Linked DNA regions of Homo sapiens: regions 2 and 3 are each reported to be linked to region 1. The links are microRNA targets in miRTarBase. Many come from high-throughput screens and were not tested one by one. Region 1 holds a microRNA gene; each other region holds the end of a gene's coding sequence.

Region 1 (7,118 bases):
TACACAGGCTCTAAGGCACCAAAGGGGTCTAAGGTAGGGTTAATTTTTTTTTTTTTTTTAGTGATTCACTTTTTGCAGTGTTTGTCTCTAATTCTATATAAATTCTTTACAGGTTATACAATCAACTAGCTGAAGTGAAACAACAAAAGGAAGAAAAAACAAAACAAGAAGCTTATGCCCAAAACAGAGCAAGGGCAAAAGAATTCCATAAGGTGAGTATAACTGAGGGAGAAGGACTTAATTTTTCAAGCATGAAGTACACAACTGAAACTCAAATTTTTATTCCTTCCACAGAAAACACTAGAGAAACTTCGAGCCAAAAATACATGCTGACTTTCTAGAAATAGTGTAAAGGTTTTTTAATTGTGTATATGTAGCATTAGACAAAATTATTTAAAGTCAATAAATTGTTATTCGAGGAATTCCATGTTGTGATTTCTTCCACTGTCCATCAAGGTCACTTTAGATCCTCTAAAGAGCTGGAGTCAAAAGATTTATCTTCAAGTTTGCCCTGAAGAAGAGAAATTTTGATTAACCTTTAAAACTCTCACATGGCAACAATCCTGGATTATTACGTTTTATATCTCCTCAGGAAAACATAGCACCAAACATTAGGAGTGCTATGGCTTCCTATAGAGAACTTCCATCTTTGGTCACAGCGTTAAGAGCTCTGGGTTTCACAGCCTCATAAGCCCTCTTTGAAATGACCCATACAAATGTCTTTTCTAATGCATACATACCTTTTTAATGAAACTGATCCAGTTGTCCTGTCAGCCCTACATAACAATAGTATAAAAGTAAATTTTACATTTCCAGAGATGAGTGTACAGTGAGTGAACATGAATGAGTCCCTAGAACGAGCCTGAGTTAACTCTACTACAAACTGCTTGGTTATTAGCAACCCACAAGGGTTACAATATAAAGGCAAAGCAAATTTGCATGATTCAAGAGATCTAGGAGAATTTTCAAATCTCACTGATTTTAAAGAAAAATCACATGTGGTTCACATTTTATTTGTATTGCATTTCTATTACAGTTAATCAACTGTTCCCAATAAGCTGATTGCTAGCAAAGTAGCAGATAGAAAACCTACTGGGAAATTTTTTTATGGTCATGTCCACAGCAAATGAGAAACTGCATTCTAAAAGCCTTGGTAATGACCATTACACCCTTGAGCAAATAACTTATAGTTAAGATAAAAACCATTACTTGCCATAATTACTTTGGCTTCTGTCATCTCGTTTTAATATGGATATACTGATGAAGACTTCAAAATTCACCTGTGGAAAAATGTGTATTTCAAATTTATATTTACTATTAAGTACATAAATCTATCTTTCAAGAATGAGGTTGCTTAGGTTCCAAAGTATCCTGAAACCCGGCACCCCAAGTAAGGTATTGAAAATTCTATGCTTAAAATAGCTATTTAAACTAATAGGTATTTTTAAAAATCAATGATCCCATGCCCATTCATATCCGAATTTGCTCTATGATCATGTTTCTGGTAACTTTTACCTTTGAGCTTTTATAATCTTCTGAAATACAATGCAATATTTAATGTAAATGGATGTTCAGAAAGGCCATTTTCATTCAGCCCCTTCAGAGCAGTTGAACATTTCGCCCATCATCATAACATCGTTAATAATGAAGTTTAAACACATAATAACGTAAGCCTAGTCCTTTTTTTTACTCCTAAGTGGTGATAGATGTTGCAATAGCATTGCTAGATAAATAAATAACCTAAAATAACATTTGGAGAAAAGCTAGTATTCAACAAAATAACCTGCATGGCCTTTTAAGTAATGAATTAACTTACCAAGAATCTTTGGGATCTAATTTCTTCAACCAATTTACTTTAGGGTCCTAGAAGTTGAATTGTACAAAGTACAGTTACATTTTGACACCTGATCCAAGACACAGTAATGTATACCACATTACAATGTTTCAGTCAATATACAGCACATAAAAAAAGTGGTCCTATAAGAGCTGAAAATTCCTTATTAAATGTTATTTCTAATATTGAAAAGTCAACATTTTTCTCCTACATTTTTACTCATAAACATAGCAAAATGTTACAGGTCTCATTGTCACCACTGCAATATGCATACTGTGATGGAAGCATAACCTGTCTCAATTTAGCCACATTAACTATTTTTGGACACCATGATCAACAGTGCCCATTCTCTAGAATGAGGCATTGTAAAAGTCTTTAAAGCTTAGTAGTGTATTTGTACGAAGTTCTTGTTATGCTGGCAGTGCTACTGATAGAGGGAAACAAGCAGAATCAATAGAAACAGAGAATCTTACCTTTTTACTGTAGGTGGTGGGGATCTACCTGGTTCTCAATTTGACACCCTGGAAAAAAAAGCATTGCTTACTATTTTAGAGTATATCAAACTGAACACTCTGAGAAACCTACACAAATACTGTATCAGTAGAAATACCAGGTTTAACAAGCACAAAGCCAAGAAAACCAACGATGCCAGATACTGAATTTCTATAGCACTGACCTTTGAACACCCTAGCAGGTGTAAACTGCTGAGTGCAGATACCATGCAGTGCAATTATGACTGAACTGTACAACTCGTATTCCCAAATTTGCAATATTGCTGAGAAATGCTTTCACAAACCTCTCAAATTCCTTTAACAAGTACAATAATTTGAGCTTTTTTCCTAATTGTCACTGTAATAAGGAAGCTACATTAACTACATTTTAAGCTACAACTCTAGTCTTTGCCTAATCTTTGCCCAGTCTCTCTATAAAACTTAAAGATGGAATATATACATGTAACTTAACAGATCAGACAACAAACGTCAAGCTCATTGTTGCTCAAACTGCCAGTTACACAAAATTCTTTTTATGTAATTCATATCCCTATTGATTCAACATATCCACACAGGTTTACGTGACTTTAGGATGAAATATGTGTAACTGCCAGTTGAATAATGATGCAAAGAACACAGGTAGTTTCGTTTGGTAGGTATAGACATGCAGTCTCTTCATTTTCCTTCTCTATACAAATATATACATTGTAATATTTTTGCCAGTATCTTACTAATTCTGTGTTATACCTGAAATACTGGGATGGTGTAATTTCTATTTTTCATCTTTTGAGTCCTTGATTATTATAAGTTAAATATTTTACTTACCTCTCAACATGAATGAGTTCAAATCACATTCATTCCTATAGAAAGTACCAATTAAAGATTTAGAAAGGATACATTTCCAGTTATTAAAACTAAAACCCAAGTATAAATTTAAGATCCAGTTTATTATACAGCCATATCCAGCTCTGTCAGAATTAAGTTTTAGTTCATGCCCGTTATCATTCAGCAGTTGAACAGTTAAATTCATCATCTGAACTGTAATCATTATTTCCCAAAAGATTATACTGTCACCAATTAAAACTTACCTAAGCGATCACTCAAGAATGGTACAGATGTGTGGAGTATGCCAATACCTAAGGTAAAAAAGTAGATTATCTGGTTTTTCATAACGTTTAGCAACCGTCTTTTTCAAACTTTTAGCAACTGTCTTGTAATTCCTTCCCACAGATCTAACAATAGTCCTGTGAGTAAAGTAAAACCACAGAGTTACTCTATGAGGCGTTTCCAACGATGTGCAGGCTACAGGAAAAGCCCCATCGGGATAGACCTCAACCACTATTTACAAGGTTTTGATTTTTTTTTAAAGACACAGGATCTGCCATGTCTTTTAAAAATCGTGTGATTCTTGCTGAATCACTTGAGCCCAGGGGTTCGAGGCTACAGTGAGATGTGGCAGGATCACATCTCACTGTAGCCTCAAACCGCTGGGCTCAAGTGTTTCTCCTGCCTTAGCCTCCAGAGTAGCTGGGGACCACAGGCACCACTGTGTCCAGCTAGTATTTATACACATAAATAACAAAGTCTAACACTCCATAGGAAAGAAATTATGAGCAGAAACTGCAATATGCTCTTACAATATTGCCAACTGCAGAAACTTCCTACTACGTTAATCACAAAAACAATAATTTCACAATCACGTTGTGCTTAGGAGCCAGAGGAATGATAAATAAAAAGTAACATCAAGTAGCTCCTTTACATGAACCAAAGGAAAAAGATTTAAACTTAAGATTTAAGTTTAAAGTCTAACTGTTGTTATGAACTTCAGTATTGCAACAGAGGATGTTGTTTTCCCAATTCGAAGATTTCAGCAAATTTTAATTCTTGGCTCAAAATTAATTGTCATCCATTATAAAATACAGGAATATAATGTGCCTGTAAGTTACGACTTTGGCATTATATAACTTTTAATCAAACTCTACATCATTCAAATTTATGAATTCTTATGACCTGTGTAATCATCTTTTATTATACTATATTTTGCATTAAACCATAAAATCCTCTGCCTCATTTTAGATTGTGCATTAATTCAAAATAATGCTGTAGGCTTCAAGTAGGAAATCCAAAGTTCTGATTATTGCTACAAACTAACAAATTCAGGACCCTCTAATGCTTGCAACTAAAATGAATCTGACACATCACTATAAAATGTGTGAATCTAGGATTCTTCTTTTCAGAAATCAGTATAAATGGGAATTAAAAGCATGGTAGAAATGTCCCTGAATAAAATGAAACTTGCTCTGACAACATACTGTTTCCTACACATAAACAAATATGATGTGAAAACTCAAATTGAGACATACCTTTAACTCCAGACACCATGTTCTCAAGATAAAAGCCTTTAAAACAAAAAGCCATTGTGTATATCATCAACATGAAATTGGAATGCAAAATTAATACTGCTGAGGATTTCCCTCATATCCCATGCTGTTTATCTATTCTACAGGCCTGGAATCAACCTTTTTTTCTTAAGAGACAGGGTCTGTCTTTGTTACTCAGGCTGGAGTACAGTGGTGCCATCAAAGCTCAGTGCAGCCTCCAACTCTGCCTCAGCCTCCCCCCTTTCTGAGTAACTCCAACTACAGGCACATGCCCCAGTACCCAGCTAATTTTTAAATTTTTGTGGAGATGTGTTTCTTACTTTCTTGCCTAGGCTGGTCTTGAACTCCTGGTTTCAAGCAATACTCCCACCTTGGTGTGGGGATTGCAGGCTTGACCCATTGCACCTGGCCTGGAACCAACCTTTATGGCTATCAATACTCCCATCAATCAACTGTCTCAGGTATCATAATATCCCTTCTTATATGTATCAAAACTCATACTGAACAATGAGTTCTGGGTTGCAAAAGAGGATTTATTTTTTGCACCTATCTGTAAGTCTTTGTCCACGTTAAACAAAAACATACATAAGTGCAGTCCCAAAATGCACTACATAGCAGAGTAGTCAGCTCTATCGTGGTGATCAAAATAATGAACATCGGGGTAATGACTGGTTCTCCCCAGGTATACATGTTGAATAAATGTGTATGCCTTTTCTTGAACTAATAAAAAGTGAAAATGGTAGTTAAAAGTAGTATTAGGCCAGGTGCCATGGCTCACACCTATAATCCCAGCATTTTGGGAGGCCAAGGCAGGCGGATCGCCTGAGGTCAGGAGTTCGAGACCATGGTGAAAGCCTGTCTCTACTAAAAAAACAAAAACTAGCTGGGTGTGCTGGCTAACGCCTGTAATCCCAGCTACTAAGGAGGCTGAGGCAGAATCGCTTGAACCCGGGAGATGGAGGTTGCAGTAAGCCAAGACTGCGGCCATTGCACTACAGCCTGGGTGACAGATCGAGACTCTGTCTAAAAAAAATAGTATTAAAGATACTCTAAATTTGGAAAGGGAAATGAGGTTATTACAATACTAAGCATCTGACAGGTCACTTGTCATGGCTGAACAAAGCTGGGATAAAATTACAGCATTTCAAATCCCCTCTTCAAGATGGTTGGGTGTCAAGTTACTTTAAGATTTTCTTTTCAAAATTAAAATCACTACATTTCATTGTTTCAATACTCACAGGACACCTGTAAGCTCTTATTCAGAAATCAAATGACAATTTCTCAAATTTTTCTATGTATTTTCTCTGGTGTTTTAATGGTTTTTTTTCTAATTATTACTACTTCACAAGTTTCTTTCACAAACTTCTTCACAGGGTTAAAAATTTTTTTTCTTGTTATAAAGTTCTGGGTTTCAGAATTTCTTCACCACCAGACTGGTACATATATCCACATTTATCTTTATTCATTTCTATGAAGTCGTTTTTTCTATATGCTTCACCTTTGACATTCATGATCCTGTCACATTTTCAGGCCTCTCTGTCCAGTATTTTTGGCTTTTGTAGCTCTCTTTTTAGACAAAGCAGCTTCTTCAGTAATATCCTCTTCTTCTAAGTATACACTCAGTCTTACAGGGAATTCAGAACTTACTATGAAACTATCCCCCTGCATAAAACAAACAAAAAATCATGGATTAAGCAATAACTCAAATAGTTTAGTAATTACATATAGCTGAATGCCCTGGATTACTTCAGATAACCTAGAGACTACATGTAGATGTTAAAAATCCAAATTAACATTGCTTATTTTTTCATTTGACATCCTAACTAGCAATAATATGTATCAGAATGCTACTTATTAAAAATAGTACTGAAAACCCCATGTTCTTTATCAAGTCTCTAAAAAATTATTTTCCTTCTTGCATTTCCTGCAGTAAACTTATAGAGCTTTTCAAAAGTTAAATGAAGTGTAAGAGAAAAACTAAATATAATTCCTTCTGTATCAACCAACTCCTGCCTTCCCAAAATGGAATAGGAAAAAAATAAGTCACTTACTGCCAATTTGATATCACATTCGTTATCTTCAAGATGTGTTGCATCCTCATCCTCTGCTCTGTAATATTAAAATTTATCATCGAGATGACAGAATCTTCGATGACCTAATTAGTTGTATATTCCACTCTGAAATATAACTGAAACTGCAATACTAGTCAAAGGAAACACAAAATTTGAGAATTTTGTGTTCTGGAGAATTCTAGATGAACGGTGTGCCAAGCTTGGCTCAACTGTAATAATCCCAATTGTCATACTCTGTATCTTTGTTCATTATTTAAGTATAACTATATTAAAGGCAAAATATGAAGCAATTAACATAGAAATTTAATTTATAACCTATTACCAAAGTATTTCATATGAT
Region 2 (7,118 bases), not on the chromosome of region 1:
CGTCCTTTGAGGGCCACAGGCCGTGGGTGGAGAAGACTGAGCAGGGGCGGCATCCTCAGCCTGCTGGACGCCAGGGGAGGTCACCTCTGTCCATACTCTTCAGCCATCTGCCAGGAATAGAGTCGAAAGCGGGCTGAACTCCTAATATCGCCGTATTACCAAGGGGAAAGGTTGGCTTTTGGATGTTGAAAGAATATGGCAATTTGACACAAACACTCTAATTTGGTTGGTTTACAAAAGGGCCGTGTGATGGAAATGGAATATGAGGAGCTCAGGGGACACACTGCAGCCACGTTAAGCATGAATTATGGATAAGGGAACGGAGTAAGATGACAGCAGCTTCCAGCTCTGGCCAAATACCCGCATAGGGAACGAATTATTGCTAGACTTTAACAAAACAATGCTGTTGTTTTCTGAGCCAAGGGACTGGAAAGTTCTTTTTAAGCTTTGCTAATGGGAGACAGGTCATCTGTGGATCTGATCCTTGTCATGGAGCAGTTGAACCTGTCCCCACCTGCCTGCAGTTAACGAGGCTGCGGCTGAACTCTGCTGTGCTGGAAACGGCGCCGTGTGACTTAAGTAGGCTGATGGAGAGTTAAAAATACAAGTTGCCTTGGCAAGGCTTTTGCAAACACCTGCCTTGCAGGCTGTCCTCCCACACAGCGACCTTGGGAAAGCCAGGAAGAGCTGAGTAGGGGGAGCACCGCACTTCCCGGGGCACTGGCGGCGTCTCTGTCCTCTTGCAGAATTTGCACATGTGGCAATCAGCAGGGGCTTGGTGGTGGACCAGCCTGGTCCTAGGAGGACTCACGACTCTGAGGAGGACGTGGTGGCTGCTCAGCCCTCTAATCTGCTTGTTGACCAAGTCAGCAAGGGACTGGGTTCTAGTCTCCCAGAGGAAGGGCCGGTGCCCCAAGAGTGGCTCTGATGGGGTGGCAGTGGTCAAGGGGCCCGCTGAGGAGGTAGCTGCCACGTCTATCTTAGAGAAACGAAAAGGCAGCGTTTGTCCTAACATTGGGCGAGGGAAGAAAAGACACGGCTTGACAGCTCAGCCTGGGGGGGCTTCCCCTTCCCTTCCTAGGAAAAGACACGGCCCCCAGTGCAGAGCAGTCAAATGGCTGCTTCTGGAAGCCCACGCTGGGCATCAGAGGCCGAAAGTGGGCTGGGGACAACATGGCACCCGCCAGAGCCCAGCAAGAGGGAATCTGCCATCGCACATTAGAGGCAGCCCTTGTCCAAGTCGCCACAGGCCCCTGCAGCGGTAGCCAGGTAACCATCTGGCCCGGCTGCACGGGTGACGTGGGCCGGCCTGTGTGGCTCACAGCACCTCGGCCCGGCCGGCCAGCGCCGTGAGCTCACTGCTGCTGCAGCTGCTGCTCAGAGCGAAGGCTCCGTCAGGCAGTGGGAGACGGCCCTGTTGGAGCCCCTGTGGTGGCCCGCCTGGAATAGCCGCGGGACAGTTGTTACGAGAAGGCTGGACCCTCACCAGGGGAAGCCGTTTCTCAGCAACTGTAAACAAAGTGGGTTTGCGGCGGCCAGTGTCTGCCATCTAACACGTGTGGTGGGAAGCGCTAGCCCCTGAAACGTGGGGCCTCTAGCTCTCAAGAGGGGGTTGGGGGTGAAGGACTTCATCTTGGGGGTGTCAGCCTTTCCTTTCAGAAAGGACCAAGCCCTCTCTTGGGGAAATTCAGTTTCCCTCCGATCAGCTGAAACCCTAGCGTTCAGCCGGCGCAGGGAGTTGTGCTTGGTAGGAGAAGGTGATGCCGTCCCTGGAGTATCTCTGAAACATAAATTATTGCCTGGGCAACAGCAGCACCAGGGTGGCACATGGCTTGGGTTACAAAACACACTCTAGTGGCAGAGATGAAATTCTCAGGGGGGCTGTAGTCCCTTGGAGAATCTGATGCGAGGTAACCACGCTTTTTCCCAGAAAATGCCCTCATGCACCATTTCACACACAGTGGGTCCTTGAATAGCATCGTTTTATTCAATGTCATTTTGTTATAACATTGAGAAAAAAATTGATTCCCGGCTGGGGCCACTGTCTGTGCACCGTCTAGACGTCCTCCCGGTCGGAGAGCTTTCTGGGCACTCTGGTTTCCTCCCACGCCCCAAAGATGTGCAGGTGAGGTTTGTTGGTGTCTGGTCGCAGTCTGAGTGTGTGTGGGGGGTGAGTGTGCCCTGTGATGGGAGGGCATCCTGTCCAGGGTGGTCCCTGCCTTGCACACTGAGCTGTTGGGATAGGCTCTGGTCGCCCACCACCTTAAACTGGAATAACTGAGTTGGAAAATGAAAGAAGGAATGAATAAAAAATTATTGTAAAATAAAAATTGCCTCCCATAACCATACAAATGCACAATAGTAAATGACGCTGTACGGAAGTGCCCAGTGAGCCCGTTCATTCTGGTGTTTGACCTGCGTGGTGGAAGGAGGCGCTCCTGACAATTTTTGCTTTGCAAACATTTATTCTGTGATATAACTCACCATCGCTGCAACTGCCAGCACTCAGAGTCACCAAAAATTGGGTAATTATCTTGTTTTTAGTAATTTTTCTTAAATGTATGTATAACTAACTCATGTCTATTTAATGTTTAATATTAGAAGTGTTTGGTTTAAAGTTCTAAAGTTTGGTGAAGTTTTTATGGCCAGCAATATGCCGTGGGAACTTAACTCTTGTTTACATCCATTAGCCTATAGTAAAATTAGTTTCATTATATATCATTTTGCTTAAAGTTGCCATTTCTTTTTTTGAGACGAAGTCTCGCTCTGTCGCCCAGGCTGGAGTGCAGTGGTGCGATCTCAGCTCACTGCAACCTCTGCCTCTTGGCTGCAAGCGATTCTCCTGCCTCAGCCTCCCGAGTAGTTGTGATTACAGGCACACGCCACCAGGCCTGGCTAATTTTTGTATTTTTAGTAGAGATGGGGTTTTGCCATGTTGGCCAGGCTGGTCTTGAGCTCCTGACCTCAGGTGATACGCCTGCCTCGGTCTCCCAAAGTGCAGGGATTACAGGCCTGAGCCACCTTGCCCAGCCAAAATTAGTTTCATTATACCTCATTTTGCTTAAAGTTGTAGTTTCTAAGAAAACCTATTGATGACGGTTGGTGAAGAGTTACTGTACCATGTTGCGGGTCTCCTGGATCCTGGGCTGGGAGCGCCTGTAGGGGAGGTTCTGGGCAAATCCAATTGACTGTGGGTTTACAAAACCACCACGGTGGGAGGTAAGATTTCAAGGGGGTGGGAAGAGCTGGAATCGTGGCATGCCAGGGGATTATCACTGTATGCCTTGCCCAAGTTAAAATAACTTGACCAATAAAGAAATTCAAAGCATTTAATATTAGAACAACTACGGACATCATAAAGCAGAAAGCAAGTCCGACAGTGTTTTGAGAGGCGATATGAGATCTTCAGGTGTTTCACCATCCAGCTCCCCTGGCAGCATGCTCGAGTATCTTCTACCTTTAGGGGAGCCGGGGATGGAGGCGTCCCTGAGAGGGACTAAAGAAGGAAAGTAGAGGATCAATTGGCTAAAAACTCAGAACTTGTTTGTGAAAGGGTCTGGATAAAGGTAAGGGGGCTTAATTTGGATACATGTTGGCTTATAAAGGAGCATTTATCCTTTCCCTGTCAGTGTGATTGATTCCAGGATGTGGAGGTTTGCAGTAGAAAACACTGCCTGAAGTTGGCGTGCTTGAAGATGACAGCTTGAGTCCAAAAAATTCTCCTTTACAAAACCCAGGCGACTTCCACGAATGGCAGGTACGTTAGAAACAGGCTCTGCGGTGGGAGGGGCTACACTTGGGACATTTTTACACTGGGCCAGCTGCTGGCTGCTCTAATTCTGGGTCTAATGACTTTACACTCCGTTATCTTTAATTGCTGCAAACTAGGAAGGGCGAATGCGCCTGCAAAATGAACTGGGAACGCAGACTGAAGGGGCTGCTTTTTGAAAAGAAAAATATTTTCCCCAGTGGTCCAGACGCATTAAGACTATGAGAGAGAAAGGGCGGGGCTTGATGAAAACCTTCTAAAGCGAGGCCACCAGCGAGCAGTCTGACCACCACATGACATGATGAAAGTAAACAAAATCCTGCATTTGCTACCTACAGGCCATCTCCACTTAGGAAGTTATCTGGTTGAAAGGAAGCAGAAAACCCTCCGGTCCATCTGCCTGCAGGTAGGCAGGGTCTGAAAGAAAGCGCTCTGGACGGGAAGGTGACGCTTCCCAGTCGCAGCTCTATCTGCTCCGTTCCCCTGTGTAGTTGGAGATGAATATGGAATGGCTGCGTATCTTAAGCAATCTGAAAAACCTTCCAGAACCTTCATGACGTGAAGGTTCTAGGCTTTGGAGTAATGGCAAGCACTTCCCACTGATACGTACACGTGTGCAACTGAGAGGACTCGGTTTTCTCTGGAATGAGTGTGGACAAACGGTTCCCATGTGGTAGGTACTTCTGCATCCTCAGGTACCTTTTCTCTTCCTCATAGACCACTGTACCTTTATGTTTTATCAAGAGTTGTATATTTTGTCTTTTTTTTTTTTAAACTGCTTTTGGGCTGGGTACAGTGACTTACACCTGTAATCCCAGCACTTTGGGAGGCTGAGGCAGGCAATCATTTGAGGTCAGAAGTTTGAGACCAGCCTGGCCAACATAGCAATATCCCCCGTCTCTACTAAAAATGTAAAAATTAGCCAGTTGTGGTAGCGGACGCCTGTAATCCCAGCTACTCAGGAGGCTGAGGCAGGAGAATTGCTTGAACTCGGGAGGCAGAGGTTGCAGTGAGCCGAGATCAGGCCATTGCACTCCAGTCTAGTCTAGGTGACAGAGCGAGACCCCACCTGAAAAAAAACAAAACCTTCTGGCTTTATATTAACTAACTATTGGTTTTCGATTCCACTGATGTCTGTTTTTATCCTGATTTAACCCCTGCCTTCTGCTGCTTTGGGATTGCTGCTACCTTTTCTGAGCTGAGGTGCCAGCCCCTCACAGCCCCTCCCAGCCCCATCCCCTGGGTTTTGTATTCTGTGCTTTTACTGTCAGCCCAGTCTAGAGAGTTTATAGTTTGTTTTTATTAACCTCTTTAAATCCAAGTAAATTCAGGAGTGTCTGGAATTGTCTTATTTTGCTTTTTGTTGATTTCTCACTATTCTGCATTGGAGTCAATTCCTAGAAAAGCAGGGCCCTGCCTGAGGGTATAGCCCATAGGGTGCAGTGTCTTGGGGTTGGGGGATTCTATAATTTGGCCTGTATGGTGTGAATCTTTGTGCATCTGAGCTGTTCTTTGTGGCCTTCGTACAGGGTGGTTTTTTGTGCATCGTCTATGTGTATTTGAAATTCCATACGCATCTACTGGATCCAGCTTGTTAGCGATACTAAGTAAATCCTCCAGATCTTTACATTTTTCTCACTGATTTGCCTGCCGTGAGAATGGATTTTATTTCTCTTTGTAGTTCTATCAGTTTTCGCTTTGATATTCTGAAGGTATATTAGGTGGATGCTGTTGCTGTTTAGAACTGTTGAAAATCAAGAGTAAGGCAATGGCTTGCTTCCAGAATACTTTGGAAATGGCAGCTCTGTATCACACTGAACAGTTCTCTCCTGTCCTGTTTCATCTTGATGGCTGTTTAGTCAATGAATATTTAGAAAATATTTGCTTTGTATCACATATCATAGACACAATAGTAAGCAAAATAGTCATTGATGACTAAACTGTATAAGTATATAATTATAAACCATGGTAAAAGCTGTGAAGAAAAAGTACAGCTCTACCAGCTTGCTACTGGAAGGTGGTGGTGGCAAGTGTCACAGAAGAGCACCCCAAGTAAATACAGGGAAAAGGACATGGAGGTTATTGCCTTGGAGGCCAGGAACAAGCACATCCAAAGGCCCTCGGAGGAAAAGAGGTAAGGGGCTGGAGACGGAAAAGACGGCCTGCAGGGCTGGAGCTGGGAGGGCGGACACACAGAAGCTGGCTAAGCAGGGACCGTATAGGACCGCGCAGCGAGATCCCTGAGGCGTCCTGAGGGAGCTGAGGCCAGGGTGGCCAGCTGGGTGGGGAAGGAGGCTATGTTTGAGTTGGCAGCACGTGGGACTCGAGCCCTGGCACACGCCAGCTTGCCCCAGGCGCTGGGGGAAGTGCAGGGGTCAGGGAGATGCGTGCTGTCAGGCATGGCACCCTGGGCTGCTTTCTTCCCCTAAATGTTTACCACCTGTGAAGAGGTGCCTGGCGTTTTAAGATGGATAAAACTGGTTCTTCCCATTTTTCTCCTTGCTCCCAACTGAGGCACATCCCTAAACATGGTTATAGGGAAAGGCCAGTGCGAGGTCGTAGTAGTGAGTGGCCATGGCGTCACAGGATGAACGGCAGACAGGGAGAGGGCTCTGGAAGGCCAGCTGGTCCACCGCAAACTCATAGGCGCGGATCAGCCCCCGGTGTCTAGAAAGAGCACAAAGATGGTGACAGGTCAGGGCTGCCTCGCTGGCCCTCACCCCAGCCGCTTCTGTCTGTGCAGGAGGCGTTCGCCTGAGACCAGATAGAGGTTCAGCTTCACAAACGCGTTCTCTGGGCACACAGCGTCAGATACTCACAGTCCCCGGCTTAGCGGTCAACGTGGGGGTGCACAAGTCCGATGGGCGCAGTGAGTGTCACAGGGCAAGGACTCAAGAGGGCGGGCCTTGCCCCTGACAGGATTCTAACCACAGCAGGCCCCTCAGCATACGGCTTGCCCTCCCTCTCTGTACAGCCGACAGCGTGGACTCGCCCCACGGGGCTGTCCTGCATCAGATGCTGGGTGCTCAGTACAGGTCAGCATCCACGTTTATGTTTCCAATTCGCAGAAAGGCAGGGCCCTGCCTGAGGGTATAGCCCATAGGGTGCAATGTGTCACGGCGGGGGGGGTGGGGTTCTATACATCAGTCAAACTAAGATGGTCTCTTACTCGCCCGGCCCCACCACTAACCTCCTGTGAGTAGTGAAGCTGTCCAGGTCGGCGTTTCGCATTACCGTCTGGTAAGGCACGTTGGCCGTGATGAGGCTGTGGCTGCTGAATGAGATGTGCTGCACCGGGTGCCTGGAAGGCAGTGGGAGAGAGCTCGTAAGGGGGCGTCCACTGGGCCTG
Region 3 (7,118 bases), not on the chromosome of region 1:
AGTAGTGTGGAGACAAAGATGTGAAGACGGGCCGGGCGCGGTGGCTCACGCTTGTAATCCCAGCACTTTGGGAGACCGAGGCGGGCAGATCACTTGAGTCAGGAGTTCGAGACCAGCCTGGCCAACATGGTGAGACCCCCCCACCTCTACTAAAAGTACAAAAATTAGCCGGGTGCGGGCGTCAATTATCCCAGCTACTCGGGAGGCTGAGGTGGGAGAATCGCTTGAACCTGGAAGGCAGAGGTTGCGGTGAGCTGAGGTCGCACCATTGCACTCCAGCCTGGGTGACAAAGTGAGACTCCGTCTCAAAAACGAACAAAGACCGGGTTGGGAGGCCTGGGTCACTGATTCTCTGTCTTGGCGACTTCTTCTTGCCCCGTGATGGCCGCTGGGCACGCAGGGCTCATCCTTGGTGAGCATCCTGGGGAAAGGCCAGGAAAGGGGCGCAGCACCGGGTGTTCCCTCCTAGCCTGGTCGCTCGGGGGGAGCGTTGGTTGGCGGGGTGCAGGTCTGGTGCTCGCTCAGGTGGGCCAGGCACCCGCGCGCCAGGTGAGGCGGGCGGGGGAACACACGCCCCTGGCCCCTGCGCCGCCGTCACGGCCGCCCACCACCCGAGGGCGGGGGTCCTGGTGGGGTGTCGATTCCGCCTCCCCGCCCACAGGCACTGGGCCCCGGGCGGCCACCGGGGTGCGGGGCTCCCAGCGTCTCGGGCTCCCACTGCTTCAGGCCTGTCCAGGGGCGGGGAGCGTCTCTGTGGCCGCGGCGGGATTGCGGCGCGGTGGCCGGGCGTCCCCTGCAGGAAGCTGTTCTCGCTCGCTGCCTCCCCCACCTGGGAGGGAAGCGCCTGGATTTTGGGTCCCGCCGCCCTCCGCGCCCTGGGCCTCCACCTGTGTTCCCAAAGCCCAGCCACGAGTCTGGGGGTGCCGGGCGTGCCGTGGTGGGCGGAGGCTTCCACAGCCCCTCCCTGCCAGGGACGGCGGGGCGGGACATGGCGGGGCCGCACGCACCGGGTGGACGACAGGGGATGCCGCGGGCTCGCGTCAGCCAGGGCGCCAGGCAGGGTCCCAGATGGCAAATGGGGTCTTGGGTGCAGAGTCTGGGCGGCCCTGGCTCACCGCCCCACTCCCGTCTGGCCGAAGGACAGCGACCATCCCTTTAGTCCCCACCACAGGGCCATCAGCCTGCGTTTTGCAGCAGGGCGCCCAGGTAACAGCGCCAGAGTGGCCCAGCTGGGACTTGTCCCCAGGTCCGGAGGTTCCTGGCTTCCGTGGGCCCCCAACTGCGCAGGTCCCATCCAGGAGCCCCGTGGTGACACCCCCCAACTATCAAAGTCCCTCGTCCCTTTCTCCCTCGTCTGAGCAGATCCCTTCTACTCCACACCCCGGCCCTGCTGGGACCCCTTCCACGCCCCACAAATCAGAAGAGCCACTGAAGAAAACTTGCTTCCGGATTCAAACCCCAGCAGCTGGGTAACCCGGGGCAAGTCCCCTCCCTTTCATTTCCTCCACTGCCAACTGCCAGTCACAGCCCTCAGTGGGGTGCCAGAGGACAGAGATGACTCACTCTGCCTGTAGGAAGGTCAATGGAGCGCTCTTCCAGCCGCCCCAGGACCCCATATGTCCCCTGGGGCGCCAAAGCCAGGTGCACACACCGGGCCACCCCGTCCTCAGCCCAGCGTGGCCCCTCCTGCTGGCAGCAACAGCAAGCAGGCTGCCTCCTTAAGACACTGGCTCCAGGGACAGTCAGGGACCCTTCAGCAGAGGTAGACCGCGGGCCCCACCCCGGCTCCACCAGAACAGGCCTGCAGAAGGCCCAGGCCTCAACCCCACCTGAGTGGGCCTGTGTGTGGGTTCCAGGGACAGGCCCCGGATTTGCCAGCTGGCGGCCCTCTGGGAAGCAAATGCTCTGGTACTTGGGCCCAGCTCCCCTCCGCAGGCCTCAGACAGCCCACTAGACCCACCAGGCTCCAGGAAGGCAGAGGGCAGGAGGCCACAGGGAAGTGACAGACACACCCACATCATCATGTCAGAGGGAAAAGTTTATTGAGTCAGCCACAGAGGAACAGAGAAACAGACACAAGGAGGTTCTGTGTGCATGGAGGAAATCAGGGCGCCGCACAGCTGAACCCTGCGCAGGACAGAGGGGCGCGGACAGCAGCGCATGCCACAAACATTCACCTGGCAAAGAAACAGAGCAGAACCTAAGGGCTCTGTGTACACACAGACACAAACATGAGGCCACTGTTACCCAACTAATAGAAGAGAGTCATGAGCGACACGACACTTCCTTACGACCTCTCTCTCCTAAAACGTAACATTATGTGTTTAACACACGCTTACCACCACTGCTAACTCAGCAAGCGCGATTACAGTGCTCCAACTTAATAAGTTGATAAAAAGCTGTCCCGTGGCCAGTTCACAATGGAACTAAATAGTTTCGTTCCGAGATGCCTGGGGAGTTTCTCTGGCAACGAGGCATTTCCAACAAACGGGTCATTCTGTCACCAGGGGATGGTCTCAGTCCACGGCACAGAGCGACGTGCCCCTGGCAGCACTGTGGAGGGCAAGGGATGCCGCTAGGAGGGGTGCTCAGTCCTCCTGGAGGACCCAAGGAGGGGCTGGCCAAGGGGCCACCTTGAGCTCTGGCCGGAGGGTGATGGCTGGCTTTGCATGAGGAGGTGACAAGAACTTTGGGCTGGGCCCCCAACATGCTGTGTGCACGGGCCTTGTTCAACTCGGAACTGAACTGACACCTCTCCCAGGTGGTGAAGGGCAGAACCCCCCCAGGAGCTCTCGGAAGCAGGGGTCCCTCACGACAGGCCTGTGGCACCAGGCTTGGAGGCAGGGAGCTGGTGTCTCTCAGAAGCGGCGCGTGCTGGTGGGAGGCGGAGGGACAAACGAGGCTGACTCCGCAGCAGCAGTCCCTCACACGCTGTGTGGTGGCTAAAGCTGGACCAAAGTTAAGAAGCGAAACAGCGTGGGAAAAGGTGTCCATCTTTTCTGAAGCCGGTTAATGTCTAGTGTGGACAGCAATATTTGGTGTTTTAACAAACCTGGTCTCTAATAGGGGCCGCCATCGCTGGTGGCTGCACAAACCATTAGCCATATAAGGGAACAGTTGGTATCTTTAAGAGTATTTTTCAAACATGTCACCCGAACATCACCGCCCCAGCAGTGGGAGAGCCGAGGGTGGCCTGCAGCTCCCCCTTCCAGCCCTCTTGTTGCTGCAGGGACGGCTTCCTGTTCAGCTCTGGGGTTCTAGGTGGTCACAGACCAAGTCCTCCACACCTGGGGCATTCAAGAAACACTCCTGATGGCTGTTGGAAGCCACTAACCATCTGAGGAGGGCTCAGTGGCCCTGCCTCCCCCCCGGGGACAGGACTGGACAGAGTGCTTCTCCCAGGGGCCTGAGGCTTTCAAGGGCAGGTGTCCAAGAGGCAGCACACAGCACTGACGTGTTCAGTGGCAGGTTGGAGGATTCCAGCTAAGGCCCCTGCCTGAGAGTGAGAAAAACAACACTCCAAAGCTAGCTCTTCAGCCACCAGGGAACGTCATGATGCCAGTCTGCCGACAGACCCAGGAAAGGGGACACAGGCAGGCCGGCCCAGCTGAGAGCTCACGGCCTCTGCCCCTTCCCGCCAGCTCGCATTCCTGCACCTGGAAACTTCTGCCATGTGTTAAGGGGAAGCTCGTTAAAAGAGTCTTTACTTAGCTGACTTGTATAGGGAACAAAACCACCACAAATGAGACCAACATTATCCTAGTTTGGTAACTGGTCTGCGCACATTACACAAGACTCGACCAACCGACACACCCTGCCTGACACTCCACTCAGTGTGCAGAGGCACCCAGGCCACCAGCCTGCACAGCCCACACCCCAAGGGTGCCACGAGCCCAACTCCAGCTGCGTCCTCAGCACTGGATGGCTGGCCAGCTTCCCCAGGGGGCACCCGCACGGCCTCCTCGTCCCTCTCGGGCAAGGCTATCAGCCAGAGCACCTCCCCTTTGACACTGACCGGCGTCCCCAGCCCCGCCTTGTTACTGCATCCGTCTGAGGTACAAGGTTAGAAGCCACAGACACCCGAGCTGCAGCCTGACCCACACAAGCTGCGGGCGCAATGGCGCTTTGCAGACAAGACAGCCTGCCCGTCTGCCCTTCTTCTCGGCTTCCCTTAAGACACAAGGTGACGACACGGACGGTTTCAAGTGAGTGCAATCTGGAAATAATCTCAGTGCAGGGGAGGGGTTGAGGCCAAAGATGTCGTGACCTGGTCCCCGCTGTGGCCAGGCCGGGCCCACACGCACCGCCAGAGCCCCGGTCACCCACACCTGCCTCCCAGGAAGGCAGCTCCAGAAACCGACTCTACTGACCCTGGACCCCAGCCCCTGCGGTCCCCTCATTTGGGCTCTGCACACTGACCTGCACACTAAGAAGGGCTTTGCTTGCAAACACCTGAAGTGCTGACAGCTTGACGAGTCTACAAAGTGTGCAGCCACCGACTCCTGTCACCGAGGAGCACACAACAGTCACGCCTGTCCCTGGCTGGCACTGGCTTCCGGCACGTTCATACCCTGACAGTGACTGTGGCAAGGCCATGTGGAGGGCACTGAATGGCCTTTGTTGTCCTTACTTCAGATTAGTCGAGGCTGGGATCTCAAGGGTTAACACACTATTCAGAGGGGGGTTGCGAAGCCCCTCTTCCTCCTAAAAATCAAGTCGCAGCCAGGCCCTGAGACTTCTGCACTCCCAGCTGGCGAGGAATCGGCTTTGGTGAGCCCTGGATCCGGCCCCTGGGCCTTCAGATGAGGGTGGGAAGCCTCAGGCAAGGGGTGGCCCCCAGATGAACCCACATTTGGTGTGGTTTGGGTCGGATCTTGATTCGGGTCAGGCCACTGCCACCCCACATCCGCTGCTTTCTTGCCTCCAACTGTTTTATAGTCGTCAGGACGAGAAGCCGGAGAAACCAGCTAAGACGGGAGCTGCGCCTCGAGATCCTGACAAGTACAGCCAGGTCTCAGAGAGGGGATCTACAGTCTTAAAGCCGCTAGAGGATCAAGTTGCATAGAGTGAGCTGCCACGGACGCCCGGCCGAGGTGAGGAAGCCAGGGGTGCCGTCCCCCAGAGAAGAAGGGCCACAGTGCCCAGCCCACGGGGCTCCCGCTGGCCGGAGGGCTCGCAGCAAAGCTGGCAGCACTTTCAGTAGTCGGACTTGCCCTGTCCAAGCACGAGATTCACAAGGCCATTCTCAAGTTTCCACACATCCAGAAAATGTTCTTGAAGTCTTGAAAGTCAGCCCTCTGCGATCCTGGGACACCGTGGCCTGGCAGACACACCGTGCGTGAGCAGGTACCCAACTGCCACCCGGACACAAACACACAATCTACAAAGTGCCACCAGCGGCAGGAGACACGGCAAGACCAGAGGCCCATCAAGTACATTAAACAGTCGTTCCTTTAAATACACAGAAAATTCAAGTAATTTATTTAAAAACTGCTTTAGTTTCATCTTGAAATATATATACGTGTATATATATATTTGCTCTAGAATGATCATATTGCAGCATGATTCTCATGCATTTCAAAGTACTTTATTTAAAAAACAACTTGAGGCAGCAAAAGTATTAATTACAATTGTCTGACTTTATCTGTGTGATGTGCGGGGCCTCCCTGTCTCCTGATCTCAGTAAGCCTACACCGACCGTTTCAAATAGGCTTAGTTCTAAAGAGACTGTGGTTTGGAAAACATTTCCAAATAGCTGCAGTACTTGCCCGAGTTTTGCTTATTCGTTGAAACCAGAACGACTGTGCGGAGCCCTCCGGTGACACGGGCCTTAGCTGTCCCAGACGTCTGCGTCCCTTTGCACCTGTCCCGATTCCAGCGTCGAGCAGGTGAGCAGGCGAGGAAGGCATGGAGTTCCGACAGGTTCCAGCACGCATGTCCCCTTCGCAAGCGGGGGAGGCCCTCGCACATCCACACACCCGAGGTAGCCTTGCGGCGGGACTTGGGAGGCAGGGCCCGCTGGGAGCTCTGCTCTCAGGAATCCCCAGCAAATGGTTTAGAGACGAATCAAAGTGCAGTGAAAGTCAACGTTTCCTTCCCCCTGACGTTGGGAGCGGTCTGGAGGGGCAACCTGGCCTCCTAGGAGAGTCCTTCAGACGGGACGAGCGGGGTCACATGGCTGGGCGCAGACACACTCACACGCGCACGCAGGAGCTCGTCTGGAGCTCACGCTCCGCCCCCAGGTGGTGCCCAGCCCATCCCTGGGCAGGGTGTCTGGGAGCCACCCCTGCAAATCACTGTCTTCTGCCCAGGCCCCCCGGACCAGCCTCCTCCCAGCTTTGGTGTGCGGTCGCTGCCCAAGGACAGGGCTGCCCTGGGCACAATGTGTCCAACTCGCTGAGGAAAAGAAGATACGTCATTCTTCTAAGAGAACCACATTGTGGAAAAGAAAATTTTTTTTCTAAAATAATCATAAAGAAAAATACTCTCCAACAGCTGCGGCACCAGCCAATGTGACGAGATCTGACAGACGTCAATACCTGCAGGCGTCTACAGAGAGGAAATTTGATAAAAATATTTTAGTCACTGACTACACTACCATTATCTGAAGCATTCAGATAAGACTTAGCAGAGAATGTCAGATTTTGTTTTCAATTATAATTTTAGAAATGCAAAATCTTATTTTTTCTAAGTTGCTTATTGTCTATATAAATGTTTTATATCATTTAAAAACATGCAGAATAATACACCTGCAGAATAAAAGAGCTGAAATTAAAATATCTTTTTCAATTAAAAAAAATATTTCAAATGATTCTTTTAATTATCGAAAAAGTGGTTAGTGTGGTATTTGCTTAGTAGCTCAAACCTACCCTACGACTACTGAATTGTGGCTATGGGGGCGGAGGGGCTCTGGCCCGCACTGCCGGGTCGGCCACAGCATCTGCAGGGTTCCGCGGTGTCTCTGCTCCCGCCCATGGCCTGGCCCCGCCGCCCGCCCGCCCGCCCACCCGCCCACTGGAATGTGTGTAAACGGGAGTGCGGCTCAGACCACGGACTCTGTCTCCACCGGTCCCTGCAGGCCCTCCTTCCGCGTGAGCTTCAGCACGGTGGGCTTTTCG

The links. Region 1 holds the annotated microRNA hsa-miR-1304-5p (UUUGAGGCUACAGUGAGAUGUG, at 3,788-3,809, opposite strand). A microRNA usually pairs through its seed, bases 2 to 8, with sites in the 3' UTR of a target mRNA and lowers its output. Matches are read on the target gene's strand: a 7mer-m8 pairs with bases 2 to 8, a 7mer-A1 pairs with bases 2 to 7 and ends in A, and an 8mer does both.
Region 2: the mRNA of FBXW8 is a reported target of hsa-miR-1304-5p. Seed matches in the 3' UTR shown: 7mer-A1 at 4,616-4,622.
Region 3: the mRNA of SLC45A4 is a reported target of hsa-miR-1304-5p. Seed matches in the 3' UTR shown: 7mer-m8 at 5,604-5,610 and 7mer-m8 at 4,246-4,252.

What each region holds. Positions count from the first base shown.
Region 1 is chr11:93,729,937-93,737,054 of GRCh38, forward strand. MIR1304 (microRNA 1304) reads right to left here and starts at 3,828; the gene lies at 3,738-3,828. It overlaps CEP295 (centrosomal protein 295), which reads left to right. Exons shown (of 30, transcript NM_033395.2): 28 at 1-33; 29 at 113-212; 30 at 295-422. The coding sequence ends at 333. TAF1D (TATA-box binding protein associated factor, RNA polymerase I subunit D) reads right to left here. Exons shown (of 6, transcript NM_024116.4): 5 at 6,758-6,815; 6 at 5,631-6,368. The coding sequence ends at 6,225. SNORA25 (small nucleolar RNA, H/ACA box 25) reads right to left here and starts at 710; the gene lies at 577-710. It also overlaps SNORA32, SNORD6, SNORA1, SNORA8, SNORD5 and SNORA18, and 1 more gene.
Region 2 is chr12:117,027,346-117,034,463 of GRCh38, reverse strand. It overlaps FBXW8 (F-box and WD repeat domain containing 8), which reads right to left. Exons shown (of 11, transcript NM_153348.3): 10 at 6,960-7,070; 11 at 3,316-6,436. The coding sequence ends at 6,292. Among named protein-coding and RNA genes, the nearest start is that of TESC, 69 kb to the left of the region's middle.
Region 3 is chr8:141,205,149-141,212,266 of GRCh38, forward strand. SLC45A4 (solute carrier family 45 member 4) reads right to left here. Exons shown (of 9, transcript NM_001286646.2): 8 at 7,049-7,118; 9 at 2,026-6,549. The coding sequence ends at 6,424. Among named protein-coding and RNA genes, the nearest start is that of SLC45A4-AS1, 46 kb to the right of the region's middle. RefSeq lists a silencer at 683-1,092 and enhancers at 3,168-3,675, 3,676-4,183.